Linked DNA regions of Homo sapiens. The protein of the gene in region 3 purifies or fractionates together with the protein of the main gene of each other region. This does not show direct contact. Each region holds a gene or a part of one and is shown on either strand. Other genes may lie near its edges.

The links.
Region 1: the proteins of TEX28 (region 3) and TMCC2 purify together in Homo sapiens (co-immunoprecipitation; 3 studies listed by BioGRID and IntAct, with this or other methods). This does not show direct contact.
Region 2: the proteins of TEX28 (region 3) and TMEM201 purify together in Homo sapiens (affinity purification with mass spectrometry; 2 studies listed by BioGRID and IntAct, with this or other methods). This does not show direct contact.
Region 4: the proteins of TEX28 (region 3) and ZNF865 purify together in Homo sapiens (affinity purification with mass spectrometry; 2 studies listed by BioGRID and IntAct, with this or other methods). This does not show direct contact.
Region 5: the proteins of TEX28 (region 3) and TMCC1 purify together in Homo sapiens (co-immunoprecipitation; 3 studies listed by BioGRID and IntAct, with this or other methods). This does not show direct contact.
Region 6: the proteins of TEX28 (region 3) and RTF2 purify together in Homo sapiens (affinity purification with mass spectrometry; 2 studies listed by BioGRID and IntAct, with this or other methods). This does not show direct contact.
Region 7: the proteins of TEX28 (region 3) and BLTP2 purify together in Homo sapiens (co-immunoprecipitation; 3 studies listed by BioGRID and IntAct, with this or other methods). This does not show direct contact.

What each region holds. Positions count from the first base shown.
Region 1 is NC_000001.11:205,226,689-205,230,745, reverse strand, and holds the start of TMCC2 (transmembrane and coiled-coil domains protein 2), read right to left. Parts: upstream 2,801-4,057; 5' UTR 2,182-2,800; coding exon 1,975-2,181; intron 1,816-1,974; exon of another isoform or gene 1,618-1,815; intron 1,032-1,617; exon of another isoform or gene 577-1,031; intron 1-576.
Region 2 is NC_000001.11:9,598,911-9,602,410, reverse strand, and holds part of TMEM201 (transmembrane protein 201), read right to left. Parts: intron 1,307-3,500; coding exon 957-1,306; intron 343-956; coding exon 139-342; coding exon of another isoform or gene 120-138; exon of another isoform or gene 1-119. UniProt on the Homo sapiens protein: Critical regulator of angiogenesis and endothelial cell (EC) migration. Promotes the migration of endothelial cells, which is essential for angiogenesis.
Region 3 is NC_000023.11:154,292,325-154,296,302, reverse strand, and holds the start of TEX28 (testis-specific protein TEX28), read left to right. Parts: upstream 1-1,178; 5' UTR 1,179-1,273; intron 1,274-1,279; exon of another isoform or gene 1,280-1,297; coding exon of another isoform or gene 1,298-1,395; intron 1,396-3,978. Other genes in the region: TKTL1 (transketolase-like protein 1), read right to left, coding at 310-443.
Region 4 is NC_000019.10:55,604,399-55,608,446, reverse strand, and holds the start of ZNF865 (zinc finger protein 865), read right to left. Parts: upstream 2,801-4,048; 5' UTR 2,715-2,800; intron 1-2,714. UniProt on the Homo sapiens protein: May be involved in transcriptional regulation.
Region 5 is NC_000003.12:129,883,712-129,887,211, forward strand, and holds part of TMCC1 (transmembrane and coiled-coil domains protein 1), read right to left. Parts: intron 1-3,500. UniProt on the Homo sapiens protein: Endoplasmic reticulum membrane protein that promotes endoplasmic reticulum-associated endosome fission.
Region 6 is NC_000020.11:56,478,627-56,482,126, reverse strand, and holds part of RTF2 (replication termination factor 2), read right to left. Parts: intron 1-3,500. UniProt on the Homo sapiens protein: Replication termination factor which is a component of the elongating replisome. Required for ATR pathway signaling upon DNA damage and has a positive activity during DNA replication.
Region 7 is NC_000017.11:28,624,659-28,628,158, forward strand, and holds part of BLTP2 (bridge-like lipid transfer protein family member 2 isoform 1 precursor), read right to left. Parts: intron 1-3,500. UniProt on the Homo sapiens protein: Tube-forming lipid transport protein which binds to phosphatidylinositols and affects phosphatidylinositol-4,5-bisphosphate (PtdIns-4,5-P2) distribution.

The DNA.
Region 1 (4,057 bases), on a different chromosome or scaffold from region 3:
ATGACCAACCCATCTTCCTCATGAAGGCAACTGGGGGAATAAATGGAGAAAGCAGTTTCCACTGCTGTCCTGAGTTGGAGAGTGGGGAATTTCCAAAGCTGCCTCTCACAGACTCAGCTGAGGGTCTCATTGGTCAAAGATTCAGGGTTTGCTGGCCAGACTCATCTGGACCGGCTCAGAATGAGGCTGAAGTCTGCAGCAGAAGGCTAGCCTCCTCCCCACAACAGCATTCAAGAGACCCCTTCCCCCTCACCATCTCACTTAAAACAGGAACTACACCTCCTGACCACATGGGATGGACTCGGGGGTGACAGCAGAGATAAACACCAAGGACTCCCTGGGCCTGGCAAAAGCTCAAGCTTCTTGTGCAGAGAGAGCCTATCCCACAGAGATCCTCTAGACATAAGTCTAGCCACGAAGCTCTGAAAAGGACGGCGGCAGAACCAGAGTTCAGATTTGAATAATTACTGCAAAGTTTAAAAAACACACACAACAATAACCTAGTCGTCCCCCTTTTCACTCCTCCCCAAGGCACACAGACAGGTAACATACACAGGTAAGAGCACACACACTCACCTGCGCTCTGACTTCCTGACTCTGAGCTGCTCAGGCCAAATGAGGAATGGCATTGGCTTATTCTGGTGAGCTCCTTAGTGGCTGCTGCCATAGGATATAGGCTTTATTAAATGCAACAGAGTCCTTTCCGTTTCCCTAGCCCAGACCCTGCACCTTCTCTGGAGAAAATAACTGTGAGGCATCAATTTCCAAGGCATCTAAGTTCCTTCCTTGGGCTGACATCTCGCTCAGCTGGACGGTGAGCTGGCTTGAGAAGCCTGAGCCTGCAGTCCCTGTGGCAGTTCCGGCAAAGGTGCATTATTTATCTCAGCTGCTGTTTTAATTGATAGAGATATATTCAAGACAGCTCGCCAATTGTCTCGGCAACCTCAGGCCGGAAAATAAACAGCTCCATGTGAACAGTTCTTTCGGCTTCTGGTTCTAGCTGCTGGCTCAGCATGTATGCAACTTGAACTGAGGCCCCAAACCAGCCCAAGCACTGCTCCACCACCTGTCAGTTCTCCACCCTGGGGGTTGGTTCAGCAGGCAGGCAGAGATCTCCAAGCACTATCTTAACCTCTGGCTCCACCTAACGGCAGGAAATCCACCTTCCCCCCCCGCCCCCGCCACCACCCCCCCCCCCCCGCCCCTTCACAGATCGGCAAACTGAGCTTCATCCAGGAAAGCGCTCAAAGATCCCAATGGGGCCCGGCACGGTGGCTCACGCCTGTAATCCCAGCACTTAGGAAGGCCGAGGCGGGTAGATCACCTGAGGTCAGTTCAAGACCAGCCTGGCCAACATGGCGAAACCCCGTCTCTACTAAAAATACAAAAATTACCCGGGCGTGGTGGCGGGTGCCTGTAATCCCAGCTACTCTGGAGGCTGAGACAGGAGAATCGCTTGAACCGAGGAGGTGGAGGTTGCAGTGAGCCGAGATCGCGCCACTGCACTCCAGCCTGGGCGACAGAACGAGACTCCGTCTCACACACATACACACACACACACACACACACACACACACACACACACACACACAAAGATCCCAATGGGTAGAGACTTACTCAGCAAGGAAAACTAATGGTCACCTGCTGTCCACTTTTTGGTTAGCATCTTGGATTTCTCCAGCCCTTTGTCTGCGAATAACACTTCACACATTATTCAAACAATCTCGGATGGGTGAGTCACTAAAACGCTTGCTGAATAATGGGGAACAAACACAGAGACCTGACACGGAGCTGAAAGACAGAGGCATAAATGGTACCTGACGTCCCCCCTGGGGTGCCAGCAAAGCATCCGCTCATCCTCTCTGACCTTTGCCTGGCTTCCCCCCTCACTTTTATCCTGTTAAAGCACTTCTGCGTGGGGTGGCGAGAGCTAAGTCGCGGGCTGGGCTTGCCGGGGGGATGGTCTGCGCTCACCTTTAAATCAGGAGGCTTGCTTCGGGGACCTGGGTTGGGCGCCGCGGCAGCGCCGGCGTCTGAAGTTGGCCCGCCAGCAGAGTTAGCACCCGTGGTCTCCCCAGGCCGGAGGTCCGCGCCCGGCAGGTGGGAAGCGGCATCTTCCAGCCCAGCTCCATCCTCCTCGCCCTGTTGTTGCTGCAGCTCGTCCGATCTGCACCTCTTCATGGTGTATGTGGGTCGGCAAGGGGAATCTGTCCTTCCAGCGCGCCGTCTTGGGGAAGACCGCACCCCCTCTTATATTCATATGAGGCCTGGGGTCTAAATTATTAACAAGGAGGGGAGATGGCAGACCACAATTTCTTGAATTAAAAAAAAAATTCTTAAAGGCGGGTGAGGGAGGGGCGAGAAGGGGGAGCCTTGGTTATAGCTTGGAATAGTTCATTTCGACCTGGGGAGCGAAGACAGGTCACAGTCGAGGCTGGGCAGCAAGAGTCCTTGGGCAGTCATTGCAGGAGGGAGAAGGGAGACAACCCCCGGCCCCCAAACTTTCTGCTTCAGGGCATGGGCAGGACGGAGAGGAGCTGGGCGGCACAGCGCATCCCTCCCGGCCGGCCGGGCTGCGGGGCGAGGCGGGGCGCGGGGCAGCCGGCCGGGCAGGTCCTAGTCGGCCGCCATCGGCGCCGGCTGCAGCCCCCGGCCCTGCAACCGGCCCCTGCCCCGCATGGTCCGGCCGCGGAGCCCGCAGCGCGCCCGGCCCCCTCCCCGGCCCGCGCGCCCCGCTCCCCGCCTGACGCGCAGCCTGCCGCAAAGCCGCGACCGCGGCCCGAGCCCGCGGCGAGCGCGCAACCTACCCCGCCCGGCTGCCTCCGCCCGGGAGCGGGAAGGCGAGGCTAGGAGGGAGTGACAGCGGCAACCGGCCAATGGGAAGCCCGCGGGGCTGAGGGGGCGTCGCGCAGCTTCGTTTTTGGGGTTGGTTGCACCGTGCGATCCCCCAGGAGAGGGCTGGAGGACGATGCTGCTGCGTTTTTGCATTGCAGAGAGCGGGCTGCAGTTCAGGGGCGGGGGCGGCGGGCGTGGGAGTCGCAGTTTCGGCTCCAGCTTGAGGGACCCTGCCGAGGAGGGCTCGCCCAGGATTTCCTCCACCCATTCGCTTTATTTGGCGAGAAGGAGCACAAGAGGGATGTTTATTATCACTGCTTTTTGGGGCTCTTAACTTTGCACCTTCTAGCCATAAGGGAGACACCTATCCCCTCTAGGATACTTGGTCTGAGTTAAATCTATGCCTACATTCAGAGCTGCAAATGCCAAGGGGAGGGGGCGTTCTCTCCTCATCGCCCCGTCCCCCGCTTTAAGTGCATTATTTCTTAATGAGACTTTACTTGGCATAATTTATGCTCAGAAATTGGGAAGAATTTCATATAAAAACACAATAACGTATGTGAGAGTTCCTTACAAACTGTGAAGCAGCTTTTAAATAAGAAAGGGTATTAATGGCAGGAGGTTGCTACATATAGATGTGTGGAAAGGGAATGCTGTCTCTCTTTGCATAAATCTCAGCCAAACTGTGCTGAGTAATCTGGAAGCAGAAGAGAGCAAACGTTGGGGTTACCAAGATATGGAGAGTAGTAATAATAACAACCCCATCTGAGTGTCTATTGTATGCCTCCTGTGGACACAATGGATTTTACTCATCCAGCAACCAGTGGTTCACAAATTGTGATCCTTGGACTAGCAACTTCAGCATCACACGGGAACTTGATAGAAATGCAAATTCTTGGCCACCAGCCAGACCTAGAGAATCAGAAGTAGTGAGCCAAGAAATCTGTGTTTTGACAAGCCCTCCAGGTAATTCTGACACACACTACCCTTTGAGAACCACTGGCCTAGACAGTGAAGGGGCCACACGGTCTCTAAAGGATTTTACAGTTTACCAATCTCTTTCGCACCCATCATGCCATTGTAGCCTCACTTCAGTCTCACTAGTCGGAGTTTCTTGACTTTCTGTTCTGTCTTCTTCCCATTCCAACCACTCATTTTAATGTGTATCCTAGAAGAGACTAATTTGTTAAGAATTTACTTCAGCCAAGCAGCTACTTTCTAA
Region 2 (3,500 bases), on a different chromosome or scaffold from region 3:
TGGGGCTGTAGGGTGGGGGTGGGAGGGCGTGAGCAGGTGAAAAGAGGCAGGACAGAGAGGGGCCCGCTTCGGACCTGGCAAAGCCTGGGCCTGAGCATCCGTGTGTCCTCCCCCCGCAGTCATGGCTGCTTCTCTGACCTTCGGGGCCGGAACCTCCGTGGGCCCGTTGCCTTCCTTGTGGCCACAGCCGCCGTGAAGCCAACCAGGCAGCACAAAGATGTGGTGCTGAACTTGAGCGTGTCTAGCCAGCTAGGCGAGGCGGCCTGCAGGTGCTGCTCAGCCAGGTGCAGCCCCAGCAGCAGGGCCCACAGGCAGGTGCAGAAGGCATCGATCCTCCGGAGCCTGAAAGGGAAGCAGCGGGGTCACCCCAGGGGAGGACAAGACCTCCTGGGTCCACGCCTTCCTTCCTGCCTCCTCTGTCTATACCTGGCCCTGCTCAGAAGAGTCCAGAGCCAGGGGACAGTGTGGGCTCGGAATCCCCTCACACTCACACGCTACCTGGCTCTGAGCAGGTGGGTCAGTGTTTCTCCTCAGCCTGTAAGTTCTAGCCTAAAACAGGGCTAAGGAAAATTCCTCCGAGTCGGTGAGCAGGGGCGACGGGGACACAGCACTCACAGGACATGCTCCCACTCAGGGAACCCCAGAGGCCCCCACGTGAGCCCCCACAACCCAGGAGGCAGGTGGTTATCGTCATCCTGATTTGACAGAGCCCGAGGAGGAGAGAGGAGGCAACCCGGCCCAGCCCACAGCGGGTGTGCACGGGGCTGGCTCAGAGGGCGTCTGCAGCCTCACCTCACCTACGACTCCCAGCCCCTGGGACCAAGCCTTGTACCAGTGACATGGTGGAGTTCAGCCTAGGGCTGTGCACCCAATGGGGTCTCTTGGCCCCCGCCCTAGACAGTAATCCAGCACACAGTCCCCTGCCCGCCAACTCCTGGCCCTGGCCCCATGCACACCTGATGCGGCCAGCCAGCAGCATTGCCAGCAGGCAGGTGAGTAGGCCCAGTGCCACGACGCCCGTCTGGTGGCTCTGCCCAAAGGCCCAGGCCTCACACAGCTTCTCCGCCATGTGCTCGGGGAGTAGGCCCAGCAACTGCCGCCAGCCCTCGGCCCCAGGGGTGGTGCCATTGTCAGGTGTGGCTGAGCCATTGCCACCAGGTGGCAGGGCCAGGGGCACAGTGGTGCCTGGGGCGAAGTGTCCGCTGGCCCCATACAGCGCGGTGGTCAGTAGGAAGGCGCAGGCCAGGAAGGCGAGGGCACGGAGCAGGATGACCTGGACCGGGGACTTCACGGCGGAGGAGAAGTTCTGCAAAGGAGGAAGAGAGGCGGGTTAGTGAGACGGCCACAGAGCCACCCCCAGCCATCACCGGTGCCAGTCTGTGCGGGGTTCTGGCCAGACCCATGTTCTCACACATCCTGGGCTTGGTTCAAAAACTCACCACTCAGTTCCACCGGCCCGCCTCACTTCTGGGCGGGGAGGAGTGCTGCTCTACCACCCTCTCCTTTTAAAGAAGACTTTCCATATTGTAGTGACCTTATTTTGGCTCACTGCAACCTCTTCCTCCTGGGTTTAAGCGATTCTCCTGCCCCAGTCTCCGCAGCAGCTGGGATTACAGGCGCCCACCACCACACTCAGCTAATTTTGTATTTTTTTTGTAGAGATGGGGTTTTACCATGTTGGCCAGGCTGGTCTTGAACTCCTGACCACAGGTGATCCACCAGCCTCGGCCTCCCAAAGTGCTGGGATTACAGGTGTGAGCCACCGCGCCCAGCCAAGTTGAGCCCCTTCCTTTACTCTGGGGAAGCAACATGCCCATGGGGCCACCTCCCTACCCTGCTCCCCAGGCCCCTTCATGTCATCCAGGGTGGGTGTCCCGGGAGAGTGACTGGTATCACCACGCGTTTATTATGTGCGTATCTGAGCATGGGTTTTAGGGGTGGCCCTCCTGTTTCTCAGCACTTTCCTGGCACTTGCATTCGTCCTCCTAGCAGCCTTGGTGGTGCACTCCTAAGCCCTGGACCCATTTACAGCTGTGGAAACCACACTCAGGGAAGCTGAGAAACTTGCACAGGGCCACGTAGAAAGCCCACATCTGGTATGCAGTGGCTCCAGGGTTTGAGCCCAAGACCATCTGGCTAAAACTAATTTTTATCATAGTACTCAGTTGATAGAATATTCTGGTTGTTTAAAAAATCTGGTATGGTAGCAAGGAGGTTAAGTAGTAAAATCTACCCCTACAAGGAAACTCCTATCCACCCCTTTGTGTCTCTAGATGTGACCTGGGTCTGATTGATATGTGGTTTCCAGTCTGCAGCTGGGACACAGCCGTGCTACCTCTGCCCTGCCACACGTCTGCACAGCAAGGCACCAGGTGGACCCTCTCCTGGGGCCTTTGGTTCTCATTCTGTCTGCCTTGTTCCTGGTCTGAATAACTTACTACTGTACTTTTAAGGTTAACTTTTGCCACAGTTATCTGTCCATTTATGTCAGCTCCAATTAAAATCACAATAGGGGCCGGGCGCAGTGGCTCACGCCTGTAATGTCAGCACTTTGGGAGGCTGAGGCGGGCGGATCACGAGCTCAGGAGATTGAGACCACGGTGAAAACCCGTCTCTACTAAAAATACAAAAAATTAGCCAGGTGCCTGTAGTCCCAGCTACTTGGGAGGCTGAGGCAGGAGAATTGCGTGAACCCGGGAGGCGGAGCTTGCAGTGAGCCGAGATCACGCCACTGCACTCCAGTCTGGGCGACAGAGCGAGACTCCGTCTCAAAAAACAAAACAAAACAAACAAAAAAACCTCACAATAGGAATTTTTGGTGAGAACTTCACAAAATGATGGAAACAGTTATTTGGAGGCCGGGTGCGGTGGCTCAGGCCTGTAATCCCAGCACTTTGGGAGGCCAAGGCGGGTGGATCATTTGATGTCAGGAGTTCAAGAGTTCAAGACCAGCCTGAGCAACAGGGTGAAACCTCGTCTCTACTAAAATATAAATATTAGTCGGCTGTGGTGATGCGTGCCTGTAATCCCAGCTACTCAGGAGGCTGAGGCAGGAAAATTGCTTGAACCCGGGAGGAAGAGATTGCAGTGAGCCGAGATCGCGCCACTTCACTCCAGCCTGGGCGACAGTGTGAAACTGTCTCAAAAAATAAAATTTAAAAATAAATAAAAGGCTAGGCATGGTGGCTCACGCCTGTAATCCCAGCACTTTGGGAGGCCAAAGTGGGAGGATCACCTGAGGTCAGGAGTTCAAGACAAGTCTGGCCAACATGGTGAAACCCCACCTCTACAAAAATATAAAAATTAACTGGGCATGATGGCGGGTGCCTGTAATCCCAGCTACTCGGGAGGCTGAGACGGGAGAATCGCTTGAACCTGGGAGGCAAGGTTATAGTGAGCCGAGATCGTGCCACTGCACTCCAGCCTGGGTGACAGAGCAAGACTCTGTTTAAAAAAAAAAAAGGACGGGTGCAGTGGCTCACATCTGTAATCCCAGAACT
Region 3 (3,978 bases):
TCTGGATCCTTTGTCTCCCAACTGGAGATCTTGGCGACCTCCAGAACTTTGGCCGTGGGTAAATTGAGGGGCGGGCTCCAGAACCCGCGGCTGACCAACCAACCGACCGACCCTTGGGTTGGCGGGAATAGTGCCTCGCTGCCATCTAGGGTGCTCGACCGGGCCCCAACAGCCCAAGACAGGGCATTACGACACAGCCCATTGTGCCTCTGAAGGCTCTCCCTTCACCACACGGCCTCATGGCCACCAGGCCTGAAGCCACCGGGCCCGTGGCCCTGCATGACCCAGACTTCAATGAGGAGAACTTACCCGGAGCTCGTGGAGCATGTGGCCCTGATGGAATGGATTCGCAAGCGGCTGGCCATATCTTGCAACACCTGCAAGGTGCCCCTGTCAGGTCTGGCCTCCTCCGGGAACTCAGCCCTCGCCTCAGCATCCGCCATTAGTCCAACCCCTTTGGAGTCTGAAGACCCACTCCTACGTCTCCGGCGTCTGAAGAGCGAATGGCGCCTGCGAGCTGCCCAGTGCGTTTATGTGATGTCGGTGCAGCTCCCTCCGCATGCCTCGTGCCACTCCCTCCACCTGCCGCTCCCTCCGCCGGCCGCTCCCTCCGCAAGCAAGTCAAGGGATCTGGAATGTTTGTGACTTGCATGTGCACAGTTATTGAAAATAGTCCCATTCTCATCTTCTCTCCTGCAATCTCAAAAGGGCTCCCTCCGCGCGGGTGCAGGGTCTTCTTTCTCTGCACAAAAAGTTCCGGCACTAGCTGTGTGGTGCCGCACGTGTCAGGGGGTGGTGCCGCACGTGTCAGGGGGTGGTGCCGCACGTGTCAGGGGGTGGTGCCGCACGTGTCAGGGGGTGGTGCCGCACGTGTCAGGGGGTGGTGCTGCACGTGGGACGTGCAGCTGCAACCGTAAAGGTGGGGGAGGGAGGGAGCTGCTGTGGCGCAATTTTTTGTTTCGTGATAAATGGTCACCCCTCCCCCACAACAGCCCAGGCTATGGCGGGCAGGGTGGGGGTGGGGCAGTGCTCAGGGTTCTGAGACGGTTGGCGCCTGCGCCAGCCTCCTTTCCTTTTTTAAAACATTCTATGAGGCAAGCCCCGTGTGATTGTTGAGGAGGAGTTAGCCCATTGCCAGCCTGTGACGTGACTGACTCGAATGAACCCTGGTAACTAGGGAATGTGCTCGCCCTGTGTCTGAAATGCCCCATGTCCGGTGGTGCCAGCACTAGCCCCCATGTCGGTCTCAGAGAACCTTCTCCCCACCTCTGAGGTGACCTACCGACCCAGAACTCGCATGGCTCCCAACGGCGCCAGCTCCACAGCGCCGTGCCCAAGTCCAGACATTCCGGATCCCAAGTGCTGTCTCTTGGTTCAAAAATGCCGAATTTCTACGTGAGCTCAAGTCAGGCCGCCTGGTCGCGCCACAGGCTGAATGCCCTTGGGTTCCCATGTTCTGCTGGGTTAAAGGGAATGTGTGTTTACATTTTTTTTTTTTTTGAGACGGAGTCTCGCCCTGTCGCCCAAGCTGGAGTGCAGTGGCTCGAACTTAGCTCGTTGCAACCTCTGCCTCCTGGCTTCAAGCGATTCTCCTGCCTCAGCCTCCTGAATAGCTGGGATTACAGGCATCCGCCACCACACCTGGCTAATTTTTTGTATTTTTAGTAGAGACGGGTTTTCACCATGTTGGCCAGGTTGGTCTCGAACTCCTGACCTCAGGTGATCTGCCCACCTCGGCCTCCCAAAGTGTTGGGATTACAGGTGTGAGCCACCATGCCAGGCGGTGGTGGGCACCTGTAATCCCAGCTAATGGGAATCTGAGGCAGGAGAATCACTTGAATCCGGGAAGCGGAGGTTGCAGTGAGCTGAGATGGCGCCACTGTACTCCAGCCTGGGCGACAGAGCAAGACTCCGTCTAAAAAAAAAAAAAAAGTGGCTGGGCACAGTGGCACACGCTCCTGTAATCCCAGCACTTTGGGAGGCCAAGGTGGGTGGATCACCTGAGGTCAGGAGTTCCTGACCAGCCTAACATGGAGACACCCCGTTTCTACTAAATACAAAAAAATTAGCTGGGTGTAGTGGCACATACCTGTACTCCCAGCTACTTGGGAGGCTGAGACAGGAGAATCGCTTGTACCTGGGAGGTCGAGGTTGCGGTGAGCCAAGATCGAGCCATTGCACTCCAGCCTGGGCAACAAGAGCAAAACTCTGTCTCAAGAAAAAAAATTTAACAGGCCACCTAATTGCGATTAAAAAAAAACCAAAACCCTGAATCTGTTTAGATTCCCACTTGCAGGGTATGTGACATCACCTTCTGCCACATTCTCGCCAGCCCTGGACATTGTTAGGCTTTTTAATTTTTGGCGTTCTGGTGGATGAGAAAATAGTATTTAATTGTTGCTTTTCGCTTACTATTCCCGGATCACCTTGCAATTACATGTTTTATTATACGTTTACTGTCTTTTGTTTTTCGTCGTCTGAGATGTCCGTGGCTACCCTTTAATGTCTTTATATTGGGTTATTTGCTCTTAGTTTACTGATTTGCAGTTCTTTATATATTGTGTTGATTAGCCCTTTATCTATCAGATATGTTTCAAGCCTTTTTTTTTCTTGTTTGCTTTTATTTATTTATTTTTTGAGATGGGGTCTCAGTCTGCCACCCTGGCTGGAGGGCAGTGGTGCGATCATGGCAGCCTCGACATCCCCGGGATCAAGCGATCCTCCCGTCTCAGCGTCCTGGGTAGCTGGGACTACAGGTGTGCACCACCACTCCAGGATAATTGTTGTATTAATTTTTTTTTTAATAGAGACGGGGTTTCGCCATGTTGCCCAGGCTGGTCTTGACCTCCTGAGCTCAAGAGATCCACCCACCTTGGCTTCCAAAGTGCTGGGATTACAGGCATGAGCCAGCACACCCAGCCCTTGTTTTTTTTTCTCCCCCTTTCTTTCTTTCTTTTTTGTTTTTGTTTTGATTAATCAAGTCCCATTTTTTTCTCCTCTTGGTTATTTGGATGTTATGTACATATGTAGCTTCTTTTCTAGTGATTACTTTTTTTTTTTTTTTTGAGACAATCTCACTCTTGTCAGTCAGGCTGGAGTGCAGTGGCGCAGTCTCGGCTCACTGCAACCTCCGTCTCCCCGGCTCAAGCAATTCTCCTGCCTCAGCCTCCCCAGTAGCTGGGATTACAGGTGTGTGCCACCATGCCCGGCTAATTTTTGTATTTTTAGTAGGGACAGTGTTTCGCAGTGTTGACCATGATGGTCTCAAACTCCTGACCTCAAGTGATCCACCCGCCTTGGCTTCCCAAAGTGCTGGGATTACAGCTGTGAGCCACCACGCCCGGCCCGGCCCCCCCCCCCCGCTCTTTTTTTTTTGAGACAAGGTCTCACTCTGTCACCCAGGTTGGAGGGCAGTAGCACAGTCACAGGTCACTGCAGCCTCTACTTGCTGGGCACAAGTAATCCTCCTGCCTCAGCATCCTGAGTAGCTGGGACCACAGGTGCACACCACTGCCCTGGCAAGACTTGCTTTTTAAACAGTTGTTGAATTCTTACATTTGTCAGTGGTGTACTGAACTCCTTCATGTCTAAAAATGTCTTTAGTCTAACCCCACAGTTGACAGTTGGGGTGTAGAATTTTAGGCTGGGAAATCATTTTTCCCTCAGAATTTCGAAAGCAGCACTTCATTGTCTTTTTTTTTTTTTTTTTTTTTTTTTTTTTGGGACAGAGTCTTGCTCTGTCGCCCAGGCTGGAGTACAGGGGAGTGATCCTCGGCTCACTGCAACCTCTTGGGTTCAAGCGATTCTCTTGCCTCAGCCTCCCGAGTAGCTGGGATTACAGGCGCCCACCACAATGCTGGCTAATTTTTGTATTTTTAGTAGAGACAGAGTTTCCTCATGTTGGCCAGCCTGGTCTCAAACTCTTGACTTCAAGTGATCCGCCTGCCTGGGCTTCCCAGAGTGCTGAGATTACAGGTG
Region 4 (4,048 bases), on a different chromosome or scaffold from region 3:
GCTACTCGGGAGGCTGAGGCAGGAGAATCACTTGAACCCGGGAGGCGGAGGTTGCAGCGAGCTAAGATCACACCACTGCACTCCAGCCTGGGCAACAAGAGCGAAACTCCTTTTCAAAAAAAAAAAAAAAAAAAGCCACAGTCCTTACAATGACCTCCACAGTCTCCTGGCTGCTCTTCCCATGTGCCCACTCTATTCCTGCTGCAGGGCCTTTGCGCTGGCTGTTGCTGTTGCCTGTAATATTCTGACTCTCAGGCAACCATCTCGCTCACCCCTTCACCTCCTCCCCATCTTTGGTCAACTGTCTTCTCAATGAGCCTCTCAGTAACCAATGACCTGTCACCCAGGCCCACATCCTCATCTCCCTAACCCTGCTTCATTTCTCTCCTTACTGCTCAGCATCATTTATAACCTCACATAATCTACTTCTTTGCCTTGATTTTGTTGGTCTCCCCATCCAGATGATCGGCTTCCTGAAGGCAAGGATTTTTATCTCTTGCTCACTGTTCCATCCCCAGGACCTACAACAGTTCCTGGCTTGATACATTTTTGTTTGAAGAAGTGAATGAATGAGGCTAGGAAAGGAGGGAGTGATTTGCTCAAAGCTGTGAACCCTAGTGGAATCCAGGGCTCATCCTCCCAATCACTTCGCTCCTGGGGTTAGGGCGCTGTTAAGAGCAGCCCCCAAGTGGGCCACAGTTGTCCAGGAGAAGGGGAATTTTTACTCTTGTATAACTTTTTGGTGTGTGGCTTTTGGGAGGGACAAGATGACAAGACATAGGAAAATCCTGGGGGAGGCCATCCTGAACCACAGCCCCCCAGGTCTATCTCTTTATCCCGTGATATTCTGAACACGCACATATACTCTTGGTTTTTGTTTTTATTTTTTTTCACTGCAGCCTCGAACTCCTGGGCTCAAGCAGCCCTCCCACCTCAGCCTCCTGAATAGCTGGGGACTACAGGTGCCCACCAACCACACCCAGCTTTTTTTTTTTTTTTTTTTTTTTCCTGTAAAGACAGGGTCTCACTATGTTGCCGAGGTTGGTCTTGAACTCCTGGCCTCCAGCGATCCTCCCACTTTGGCCTTCCCAACTGCTGGGATTACAGGCATGAGCCACCTCGCCTGGCCTGTATTTTGTCTTTTAATCATCTGCCCCCTCAACTAGCATATCCACTCCATGAGGACAGGGATTCTTGTCTATTTTGTTCTCTGTTGTACCCCCAATGTAAAGTAGGTGCTCATTAAACAGTTGTTCAACCAGTGTTTACGAATGAACGTATGAATGAATGAAGAACATTCTGGGCTCGGTAGAGCTGACAAAGGCTAGATAATTTATCCCAGTGCCCTCACCTCCAAAGCCTTTTGAGACCAAAGCTTCCTTCCTCTTGTTCTTGCCTTCAAATCTTCCACTCCACCCTCACCGGCCTCCCCTGCTGCTCCTCCACTCACCGTGCTCACCGCCACTTCAGGGCCTTTGCACTTGTTGTTCTTGCTGCCTGCTCACCCAGATCTTTGCATGGCTAAGCTGCCACTTGTAATTCAGCTTTCACCTCTAAAGTAGTTCATCAGGCTCTCAGAGAACCCACAAAACCCCGTGTATCTTTGTCGACTCGTGTCTGATCAACTAGACTGTGAGACCCCGCACAGTGAGAACACTGTGTGTATCGACCCCCTTCGTGGCTGTATATTATACCCTTCAGCTAGAATAGTGAATATGCGTTCAACGCAGAAGGAATGCCTACGAGAAAAGAAGTCACACCCTAGTGAAGTCCAGGGTCTTCCCTAGGGAGTCCAGGACGATAGCCTGAGAGCTGGGTGAGAAGCTGCAGGTCAGGGCAACAGTTGTTCACGCCATAGGAAGAGGATGAGGCACATTCTGGGAAGGAAGGCTTCACCGCCTCACTGCGGGACACTGTTCTGTGGCAGAAGTAATGAAGACGGGCTGACCGCGATGAGGGTGGGGTGAGAGGAGGTACGGGAGTATGTCATGGGAGCCTGGAGCTAAGCAGGCGGATATTTCTACCTGAGGCGGGAGAGGATGTGAGTGTGAAGGAACTCTAGAGGGAGCTGTGCCGCTGCGATGGGGGGGTGGCTTTGAAAGGGGCATTCTTAAGGGGAATCACTGGAGGACCTGCAGAAGGGAAAAAGGCATTCTTGGTGCTGACCAGAATAGAAAGTATTTTCACACCCACGAAGGGGCGTTCTGCTGGGGAGGGAGGTGGTCAGGGCCATTGGGGGCTGTTGCTGTATGGACAGAGATAACGGGGGACAGTTCTGCTGCAAGGCACTAAGGAAACACTCTGGGGAGAATTATATAGAGGATACTAATAAGAGGGTTCACGAGCAGCTGCCCTACATGGGGAGGGGCAATGCTGATGGCATCTGGAGGCTGACCTGGAGGAAGCAATGACGGGGAGCGCTATGTGGAGGGGATCCTACGAGGAGGTATCATTTGGGGGCCCTGGCAGCCGTTTAGGGGATCGCCACGAATGAAAGCGCTTTGGCAGCCATCCTAGCTGGGGGCGTTCATGGGGGAGCTATCTGCAGTGATCCTACCGGGGAGCAGTGATTGGGGGTCCCTTGGCAAGGGCCCGGCGGGAGCTGCACTGACTTGCTAGGGGTTGGGGGACGTTCTGGGGACCACAGCGGGCCAGGGCGGGGCCCCCCGCCCCCGCTGCACCCGGGCCCCCGGGCCACGCACCCCGTCACTCACCGGCGCCGGGGTCTCCGCCGGGAGGAGGCCGAGGAGGCGGAGGAGGCGCCGCCGCTCCGGGGAGACCCGAGGGCCCGACCGGAAGTGCCGCCCCCTCCCCCCTCCCCGGCAGCCCCGCACCGCCCGCCTGCCCGCCCGCCCGGAAGCGGAAGTCGCGCCCGTTCCCGAGGCGCCGGCGTGGAGGATCGGAAAGAGGAGGCGGTGGCGGGGACCAGGAGGGGGGAAATGCGCTTGCGCACTGACTCGGGGACGCGAGCAGTGAAAGCCCGGGCCGATTCCGGTGGGCGAACTGAGCCAGGTGCGCCTGCGCTTTGAATGCCCGCCTCTTCTACGGGAACCCCGCGACACGCTCTGGGCGTCCGGTTAAGCCACACCTCCGGCTCGGGTCTCACACTGAAGCCCCGCCCCCTGGCCCTGAACCACGCCCATCTCACAGCGTGATTATAAGCCCCCTACTGCCTCAAAGTCTGTCTTCGTCCCCTCGCCCTCATGCAGTTTCTCCTGTTCTTCCCCCTCTCCAAGCTCCCACTCTCTGGAACTTCACCCCTCCCTAGGCCCCGCCCCCTCCATCCAAGCCCCGCCCCTTCACCCCATAGCATTTAAGTTGCACCTCGTGACTTTTGAGTGCCTCCCACCTCTAAAGCATTCTTTTAAATCGGTGGTTGTCAAGGATAGTTGGGAGGCCAGCAGCATCCGGCTGCCTGCTCAGACCATGCGGAATAGAAGCCCTGGGGTTGGGGGTCTAGGGATCCGTGTTTTGAAATACTCTGATTCTGCTGCATGCTGGTCAAGAGCCATGGATTTACCACACTTGACACTGCCCGCTCATATAATCGCTATAATCCCGGCTCCCAACTCAGCCCCATCCCAAACAGCCAAACCCAGACCCATTCAGCCCCTCCTGCTAAGCTTCCACTCTCCCAGGAACTTCCCTTAGATTAAGTACTTCCTTCTCTCCCCATCGCCTCCATAGCAGTCGTGCGCCCCCATCAGCACCTTCTAAGTCCCACCTCCAATACCCTGTTCCCTCAGAGTTTCTCCTTTAAGCCCCGGCCCCCGGCCCTCGGCCCTGAACCACGCCCACCTCAGAGCTGAATTATTATAAGCTCCGCCCCTCACCTTAAAATCCGTTCTCTTGGCCTGGCGTGGTGGCTCACGCCTGTAATCCCAGCACTTTGGGAGGCCAAGGCAGGCGGATTGCTTGAGCACAGGAGTTCAAGACCAGCCTGGGCAATATGGCAAAACCCCGTCTCTACAAAAAAAAAAAATACAAAAATTAGGCTGGACGCGGTGGCTCACGCCTGTAATCCCAGCACTTTGGGAGGCCGAGGCGG
Region 5 (3,500 bases), on a different chromosome or scaffold from region 3:
CTCACACTTGTAATCCCAACACTTTGGGAAGCCAAGAGGGATCAATCACTTGAGGCCAGGAGTTCAAGACTAGCCTGACCAACTTGGTTTCACCAACATGGTGAAACAAGATGGTGAAACCTCGCGTCTATTTTATTTTATTTTAGAAATAAAAAAATTAAATTAAAAAAAGAAAAAATATATTTTTGAAAGAAAAATAAAAGCAGCCAGAAGGAAACAACCACACATTACATACAGAAAAATAAACCCAATGAAAGCAGATTTCTCATTGGATACAATGCAGGCCAGAAGATGGTGAAACAGCATCATAAAGAAACGTCAACAGTAATTACATATCCTGTGAAAACAGTTTCGAAAACTAAAAACAAATTAAAGTCTTCAGATGTCCAAATACTAAAAGGATTCATTGTCAGCAAATGTGCACTACAAGAAACATTAGAAATCCTTCAATCAGAAGGAAAATCATACCACACAGAAATCTAGAACTATACAAAAGAACAAAGAGCACCAAAAAAAGGTAAAATATATGAATAAACAAAATATACACGCATACTGGACAAAGACTTTTATAATAGTATGAGCAGAATCATTTACATTATTAAAATAAAGAAAAAAGCAATATCAAGAATTTTCAGGCTGGGCATGGTGGCTCACACCTGTAATCCCAGTACTTTGGGAGGCTGAGACGGGAGGATCACTTGAGCCCAGGAATTGGAGACCAGCCTGGGCAACATAGTGCAACCCCATTTCTACAAAATAAAATAAAAAAAGAATTTATACATATCTTCCAACATGCTTGTCTTCCACAAACTTCAAAGTACCCTGATTATTAGAATTAGAACTCAGTTCCCATCACACTTTCCTACAAATCACAGTCAATATTATTTCTTCTTTATAAAATGAAGCTCTAAAGTACAAGCTATTTGTCTGATAACAGAGTCTTTTGAAGAAATAAAATTAAAACTAAAACCTCCTTGTTTCCAGCTTAGTATTCTACTACATAAACAGTGGTTTTCAAAATCTTTGAAGGGCTTGCCTACAGAGAAATTCTTTGAGATAAAAAAAAATGGTGGTCAATATATAATTTATCGATTTTTTTCACTGTCTCAATGGAACTCGAAAGTCATTTACAAATGAGCTACAGCAGGCAGGGCGTAGTGGCTCATACCTGTAATCCTAGCATTTTGGGAGGCTGAGGCAGGCAGGTTGCTTGAGCGCAGGATTCAAAACCAGCCTGGGCAACATGGTGAAACCTCATCTCTACAAAAAATGCAAAAATTAGCCAGAGACGGTGGGACACACCTGCAGTCCCAGCTACTCGGGGAGCTGAGGCAGGAGGATTGCTTGAACCCGGGAGGTCCAGGCTGCAGTGAGCTTTGATTGCACCACTGCACTCCAGCCTGGGTGACAAAGTGAGACCCTGTTTCTACATAAATAAGTAAATAAATAAGCTACAGCAAAGAATGTTCCTTGTTTTCAAGAAATCTGAAAAACAACAATAGGTTTCAATGAATTGGTCAGGTTGTCCCAAACTGGCAAAAGAAGAAAACTTTTGCCAAGTCTTCCTGAGGAAAATGAATTTGTCAAAGCAAAGGTGTCAAAGCAATCACTGCAGAACAAAGCTTTGGGGTCAGGTGTTGAAGTAGAAAAAGGATCACCTGAGGTCAGGAGTTCAAGACCGGCCTGACCAACATGGTGAAACCGTCTCTACAAAAACACAAAAATTAGCCAGGCATGATGGCGGGTGCCTGTAATCCCAGCTACTCGGGAGGCTGAGGCAGGAGAATTGCTTGAACCCAGGAAGCAGAGGTTGCAGTGAGCTGAGATCGTGCCACTGCACTCCAGCTTGGGTGAGACAGAGAGACTTCATCTCAAAAAATAGAAAAAAGGAAAACAATATTTGATGCTATTCTATTATAGTTCAAACCTGAGGGAATGTGGTTAGAATAAAATCTCTGTAACATCACTGATGCCAAATAGATTACAGAATGGGAATCCTGCCTACTATCCCTCTGAATACATAATAGGTTTTTTTGTTTGTTTGTTTTTTGAGACAGAGTCTCACTCTGTCACCAGGTTGGAGTGCAGTGGCGCAATCTCGGCTCACTGCAACCTCCGCCTCCTGGGTTCAAGCAATTCTCCTGCCTCAGCCTCCCGAGTAGCTGGGATTACAGGCGCCCACGACCACGCCCAGCTAATTTTTGTATTTTTAGTAGAGACAGGGTTTCACCATGTTGGCCAGGATGGTCTCGATCTCTTGACCTCATGATCCACCCACCTCAGCCTCCCAAAGTGCTGGGATTACAGGCGTGAGCCACTGTGCCCGGCTTGAATACATAATGTTAAATGCAATTCATACACTCAGAGACTGCTTGAGACCACTAGCAGACCTCATAACCCAACTGCACAGTGAGAGACCACTTGCTGCTCTCAGATAGATAACTGAATGGTTCACATAACTCAGGATGTTCTTCTGACAGAATTCTAGAGGAAGGCTACCTACTGTTACCCTATCTGGACCAAAATTCTTTATTCTATAAAGACAACAAGAAAATTATGTGATTTCAGTATTCACTAAGGAATACCATATTCCAGGAGAAAGTAGCATTCTTTCAGCACTTTATCCAAAGTCAAGCCATTGGAAAACTTTCTACTTTATATGATAATAAACTTATCAAAAGAAATACAGTGGTTACATACTCAAGAGAACTGAAAATGTATGTTCAAACAAAAGCTTATACAAGAATATTCAAGGCAGCATTATTCATAATAGCAAAAAAGCGGCATTATTCAGAACAGCCTACTGATGAACAGGTACACAAAACGTGGTGTATCCATACAATGGAATATTACTATGCCATAAGAAAGGAATGAAGTACTGATACTTGCTACAACATGGATGAATAAAAACACTGTTAAGTGAAAGAAGCTAAAAACAAAAGGGCAAGCCGGGTGCAATGGCTCACACCTGTAATCCCAGCACTTTGGGAGGCTGAGGCGGACCAATCACTTGAGGTCAGGAGTTCAAGACCAGCCTGGCCAACATGGTGAAACCGTTTCTACAAAAAAAAAAAAAATTAGCCAGGTGTGGTGTGTGCACCTGTAATCCCAGCTACTCGGGAGGCTGAGGCAGGAGAATCCCTGGAACCCGGGAGGCGGAGGTTGCAGTGAGCCGAGATCACACCACTGCACTCCAGCCTGGGAGACAGAGTGAGACTCCGTCTCAAATAAAATAAAATAAACAAAAAAAACCCCAAAAGGCCAGGTATTATGATTCCATTTATGTGACATGTTTAGAATAGGCAAACCCATAGGACAAAAATCAGACTGTGGTTGCCAGGGAACAAAGAGAGGGACTGCTTAATAGGTATGGGGTTTCTTTTTGGGGTGATGAAAATGTTCTAGAGTTTGGCAGCGGTGGTGGCTGCACATGTTACACTGTGAATGAACTAAAAGCCACTTAACCGTAGATTTAAAATGGTTAACTACATATTTCAAAT
Region 6 (3,500 bases), on a different chromosome or scaffold from region 3:
CAATAACAGATGGACAAAGTCAAAATAAGCAAAGCTCAATTCACTGGGTAAGAGAAAAAGGAGAAGAGACTGACCAGCAAACCAAAGGAGAAACAACAGGGGAAGCCACAATCAGAGCAACAGGCTGCAGGGGACTCCTACTCGAGACCCCATTGTGGAGCTCGTTTCTGCTAAGTTCCTCTTCTGGGGTGAGCTAGTTTTCTTAAAAGCAAGTGGGAAGCCAAACACGAAAGGTTACATATTGTATGATTCTATGCATATGAAATATCCAGAAGAGGTAAATCCATTGAGACAGAAACAGACTGGCAATGGGGAGTACCTATGTAATGGGCAGAGGATTTTCCTTTTGGGGTGATAAAAATGTTCTGGAACCAGATAGAGGTGGTGACCGTACAACACTGTGAATGTACTAAATGCCACTGAAACATACACTTTAAAATGGCCAATTTTATGTGACTTTCACCTGAAATACAAACATATACATACGTGTGTGTATATGTGTGTGTATATATATATGCAAACACACACACATACACACACATATACAGAAGTGGGACATGGTTAGGTAAATGAGTCTGGTTCCCCAGAATATGTCTTACTTGACCCCAATGGTGGTTTAAAAGAGAGCCCTAAGCGGTTTAAATTCAGATTATTTGAAGAAGAGTGTAATATTTAAAAGCAAAAGGTCCTTGGACCCTAAACTGTACTTCTCTCCAAATCCATGAAGCCCCTCGTTGTTCCATTTCAGAACAGGACAGTTAGTTCCCCTCGCACAGTCTGCCACACGCAACACGGCCTGGCACACTGAGAGGGTGTCCATGTACACCTGTTAAATAAACAGACGCCAATGTGCCAGAATGCTCAGGATTAAATACTGCTGTTTAAAGTTCAATGAAACCATTTTTACTTACTCGAGATGCTTTGCCCCACCCCTTTCCTGAATGAAAGTAATAAAAAATGCTACCTTTCAGTATGTTGTGTGTTTAACAGAAGATTCCAGAGGGCAGTCTGGACTACCAGCTATTAAGGATATAGGCATACCTTGTTTTATTGCGCTTTGCAGATATTGTGATTATTTTAGACTGAAGGTTCACGGCAATCCTGCATCTGGCAGGTGTGTCAGCATCTTCCCAGCAGCATGTGCTCACGTCATGTCTCTGTGTCACATTTTGGTAATTCTCAAATATTTCAAATGATTTCATGATTACTACATCTGTTACGGTGATCTGTGCTCAGTGACGTTTGATGTTACTTTTGTAATTGTTTTGGGGTGCCAGGAACAACACTCTTATAAGATGGTAAACTCAATTAATAAATGTGTGTGTTTTGACTGCTCCATGAACTGGCCATTCCCCCATCTCTCTCCTTCTCAGTTCTCCCTATTCTCTGTGACACAACAATATTGAAATTAGGCCAATTGAGAACCCTACAATGGCCTTTAAGTGTCCAAGTAAAAGAAGAATTGCATGTCTCTCACTTTAAATCAAAAGCTAGAAATGATTAAGCTTAGGGAGGAAGGCAGGCCCAAAGCCAAAACAGGCCAAAATCCAGCCTCTCAAATCAAACACTTAGCCAGGCTGTGGATGCAAAGGAAAAGTTCTTGAAGGAAATTAAAAGTGCCACTCTATAAACAGATGAATGGTAAGAAAGTGAAACAACCGTATTGCTGATATGAAGAAAGTTTTAGTGGCCTGGACAGAAGATCAAACTAGCCACAGTGACAGATCCTTAAGCCAAAGCCTAACCCAGAGCAAGGCCCTAACTCTCTTCAATTCTATGAAGGCTGACAGAGGCAAGAAAGCTGCAGAGGAAGAGGTGGAAACTGGAAGAAGTTGGTTCATGAGGTTTAGGGAAAGAAGGCGTCTCCATAACATAAAAGTGCAAGGTGAAGCAGCAAGTGCTGATGGAGAAGCTGCATTAAGTTCTCCAGAAAATCTAGCTAAAATCATTAATAAAGATGGGTACACTAGACAACAGATTTTTAGTGTAGATAAAATAGCCCTGTGTTGAAAGAAGATGCTATCCAGGACTTCTACTGCTAAAAAGGAGAAGTAATGCCTGGATTCAAAGCATCAGGACAGGCCGACTCTCACTAAGGTCTAACGTGCCTGGTGACTTTCAGTTGGGCCAATGTTCATTTACCGTTTGGAAACCCTAGGGTTCTTAAGAATGATGGTAAGTCTACTCTGCCTGTACTCTCGAAATGGAAGAACCAAGCCTGAATGAGAGCACATCTGTCTATAACATGGCTTACGGAATATTTTAAGCCCAGCGTTGAGACTTACTGCTCAAAAAAAAAAAAAAAAAAGATTCCTTTCAAAATATCACCGCTCATTGATAATGCACCTAGGTCACGCAAGAGCTCTGATGGAGATGTACAAGATTAAAGTTGTTTTCATGGCTGCTAACACAACAACCATTCTGCAGCCCATGGATCAAGGTGGAACTTTGACTTTAAAGTCTTATTTAAAAATACATTTCATAAGGCTATAGCTGCCATAGGCTTCCTCTGCCATTCCTCTGATGGATCTGGGCAAAGTAAATTGAAAACCTTCTGGAAAGAATTCACCATTCTAGATGTCATTAAGAACATCTGTGATTTGGCCCGCTGTGGTGGCTCACACCTGTAATCCCAGCACTTTGGGAGGCTGAGGCAGGCAGATCATCTGAGGTCAGGAGTTTGAGACCAGCCCGGCCAATATGGTAAACCCTGTCTCTACTAAAAATATAAACATTAGCTGGGCACGGTGGCGGGCACCTGTAATCCCAGCTACTCGGGACGCTGAGGCAGCAGAATTACTTGAACCCAGGAGGTGGGGGTTGCAGTGAGCCGAGATTGTGCCACTGCACTCCAGACGGGGCAACAGAGCTGGACTCCGTCTCAAAAAAACAAAAAAACAAAAAACAAACAAAAAAAATCTGTGATTCATGAGAGGAGGGCAGAATATCAACATTAATAGGAGTTTGGAAGAAGCTGATTCCACCCCTCATGGACGACTTGGAGGGGTTCAATGCTTTAGTGGAGGAAGTAACGCAAATGTGGTAGAATGGCAAGAGAATGAGAAAAGTGGAGCCTGAAGATGACTGAATTACTGCAATCTCACGATAAAACCCAAATGGATGAAGAGTTGCTTCTTATGGATGAGCAAAGAAAGTGGTTTCTTGAGACAGAATCTGCCCATGGTGAAGATGCTGTGAATATTGTTATGATAGATTTGAAATATTACATAAGCTTAATTGATAAAGCAGTTGCAGGGTTTAAGACAACTGATTCCAATTTTGAAAGAAGGTCTACTGTGGGTAAAATGCTATTAAACAGCATCACATGCTACATACAGAGAAATCTTTCATGAAAGAGTCAATCAATGCAGCAAATTCTATTGCTGTCTTACTGTAATACACTGCTACAGCCACCCGAACCTTCAGCAACCACCATCCTGATCAGTTAGCAGCCATCGACATCAAGGCAACATCAAGGCTCCACCAGCAAAAAGATGATG
Region 7 (3,500 bases), on a different chromosome or scaffold from region 3:
TTACTCTATGATCTCTCCCTTACCCCCATTTTATTTCTTTTTTCATTTCATATTATTTTACATGTTATTTGACCACTCTTTTCCACTTGAAACCACTCTCTTGCCATCAATGTCATTATATTCTCTGAGGTCTGCTGCTTCCCCTGATTATGTCTCCAGGCCCTCTTCCTTCTCCCAGGTCTAAGCTCCTCAGATCCATCCTTGGCATGTTCCCTTCTCTTTCCTACTCTTTCTCTTAATGGGTTTGTCTAACAGAGTGTATGGTTAAGAGCACAGTCTCCAGAATCAGACTAGTCTGCCTGTATTGTGACCTTGGGCAGTCTGCCCTCTTTGCATCATAGTTTACTTGTTTGTAAAAGAGTAACTCTCTCATGAGATTGCTATGAAAGTTTAACGGGGCCAGGCGCGGTGGCTCACGCCTGTAATCCCAGCACTTTGGGAGGCTGAAGTGGGCAGATCACGAGGTCAGGATATTGAGACCATCCTGGCCAACATGGTGATACTCCATCTCTACTAAAAATACAAAAATTAGCCAGGTGTGGTGGCATGCACCTGTAATCCCAGCTACTTGGGAGGCTGAGGTAGAAGAATAGCTTGAATCCAGGAGGCAGAGGTTGCAGTGAGCCGAGATTGCACCACTGCACTCCAGCCTGGTGACAGAGCAAGACTCCGTCTCAAAAAAAAAAAAAAAAAAAAAAAAGAAAAAGAAAAAGAAAAAGAAAAAAGAAAAAATGGAAAAATACATAAAAATATTCTCTTACCTCTATGCTGAAATTCCCAAATATCTATCTTTAGCCCTAAGCTTTTAGACTCTAATTTCCAGCTGTTTGTTAGACATTATATTGATACCTTACTAGTGACGCAAATTCAGCATGCCCAAATGTGAACTCAACAATCCTACACCTCCCAAACCTGTTTAGTCTCAGGCTCTATTTCTGATATTACTGTTACCATCATGCCAGTCATCAGGCTCAAAATCTAGTCGTTATAATTTTCTCCCTTAAACTCCTCCTTCCAACCAGTGGTCAGTTCACCCATATGCATCTTAATCTTTCCATCCATCTTATCTCCATTCCCACTGCCTCTACCTAGTTCTAGCCCTCAATGCTTTTTTTTCTTCCCTTGAGATGGAGTTTCACTCTTGTTGCCCAGGCTGGAGTGCAATGGCGCAATCTCGGCTCACTGCAACCTCCACCCCCAGGTTCAAGCAATTCTACCGTCTCAGCCTCCCGAGTAGCTGGGATTACAGGCACACACCACCATGCCCAGCTAATTTTTGTATTTTTAGTAGAGACAGGGTTTCACCATGGTGGCCAGGCTGGTCTCAAGCTCCTGACCTCGTGATCCATCCGCCTCGGCCTCCCAAAGTGCTGGGACTACGGGCGTGAGCCACCATGCCTGGCCCCAGTTCTCAATGCTTCTTACTGAGACACCATGATAGTTTCCTAATTTGTCTCCCCACCTCCAGTTTCTTCCTCTCCAATCCTCCTACACACTACTCCCAGATCTGTCTTCATAAAAGTAAAACAATGACACACCCATGTTCAAAAACATTCAGTAGTTCACCACTGCCTACTGTACAAGGACCAAAAACTACTTAGCCCTATATGAAAGGTCTTTGATGATCTACCCCAGCTTTCCTTTCCAGTCCTTTCTCTCACTCCTCTCCCTTAGTTACTCTCTGTCTACTAAAAGAGACTGTTTACTCTCTGTGATACTGTGAAATATATATTTGGTCTTCCCTGCTTCCTGGCATATAAAATCTAAAATCATTAGTGCCTCCTAAGTGATGTCTTTTTGTGTGCTGAGTTGACTAGTTGCTGGCAGCCCCTAAGTAGCTTCCAGATGGTGGCTGGTCACTGGAAAGACCCAGGCAGGATTAGAGGGTTATAATTTTCAGCCCCCCACCCAACCCACACTTCCTGGGAAGAGAGGGGCTGAAGGCTAAGTTAATCACCAATGGCCAATGGTTTAATCAATCATGCCTACATAATGAAGTCTCCATTAAAAACCCAAAAGGACAGGGTTTGGAGAGCTTCTGGATAGCTGAACACGTAGAGGTTCCTGGGGCATAGCATGCCTGCCTGGGGAGGGCACAGAAGCTTCCCGCCACTTCCCATACCTCGCACTATGCATCTCTTCATCCATATCCTTTGTAATACCCTTTACAGTAATCCAGTAAACATGTTTCCTTCAGTCCTGTGAGCTGCTCTAGCAAATTAATTGAACCCAAGGAGGGGGTTGTGGGAACCCGTTTATAGCCAGTTGGTGAGAAGCACAGATAAAGCAACCTGGAGCCTGTGACTGGCATATGAAGGAGAAGGGCGGGCTTAGAGACTGAGTCGTCAACCTTTGGAATCTGATGCTGTCCCTGGGTAGATAGTGTCAGAATTGAACTGAATTAGAGGACACCCAACTGGTGTCCACTGCAGAATTAATTGCTTGCTTATTGGTTGGGAAAAATTCCCACACATTTGGTCACAGAAGTCTTCTGTGTCAATTGTTTTCGAGTGAGGGAATAGAAAAAACACTTTTGAGTTTGGGTTTTTCCACTCAAGACTCTGCTTTGAACGCACTAGGCTTTCAAACTCCACTCCTACTCAGATTATTCCCTCTGCATTGATTGCCCTTCTACCCCATTTCTACATGTTCAAACCATACTAGGCTTTCAAGGCCTGGCTCAAATGCTACTTCCTCAATAAACCCTCCCCTGATGGTATTCCCCCCTTCACTCCTGTCAGCAATACCTCCATTTTTTTTTTTTTTGAGACAGAGACTTGCTCTGTGGCCCAGGCTGGAGTGCAGTGGTGCGATCTAGGCTCACTGCAAGCTCTGCCTCCCAGGTTCATGCCATTCTCCTGCCTCAGCCTCCCAAGTAGCTGGGACTACAAGCACCCGCCACCATGCACGGCTAATTTTTTTGTATTTTTAGTAGAGATGGGGTTTCACCGTGTTAGCCAGGATAGTCTCGATCTCCTGACCCACCCACCTCAGCCTCCCAAAGTACTGGGATTACAGGCGTGAGCCACTGCGCCCGGCCCCATATTCTTTTTTTGAGATGGAGTCCTGCTCTATCACCTCCACCTCCTGGGTTCAAGCGAATCTCGTGCCTTAGCCTCCCGAGTAGCTGGGATTACAGGTACTTGCCACCATGCCTGGTTAATTTTTTTTGTATTATTTTTAGTAGAGATGGGGTTTTGCCATGTTGGCCAGGCTGGTCTTGAACTCCTCACTTCAAGTGACCCACCCACCTCGGCCTCCAAAAGTGCTGGAATTACAGGAGTGAGCCACTGTGCCCATCCAACTCCCATTTTCTTTTATTTCTCTCTTATGGCATTTACCACTTTGCTTCTTTCCCTTACTCATCTTGTTTTGGCTCCAACACTCCCCTTCTGATTCTCTTCTGGCCATAGGACCAGACCATTTAATGCCCCAACATCACTGTTACTTAATATGTAAGACTTAGGTGGCCTAAGAAGGAAAAATAATAGTTTCACTTC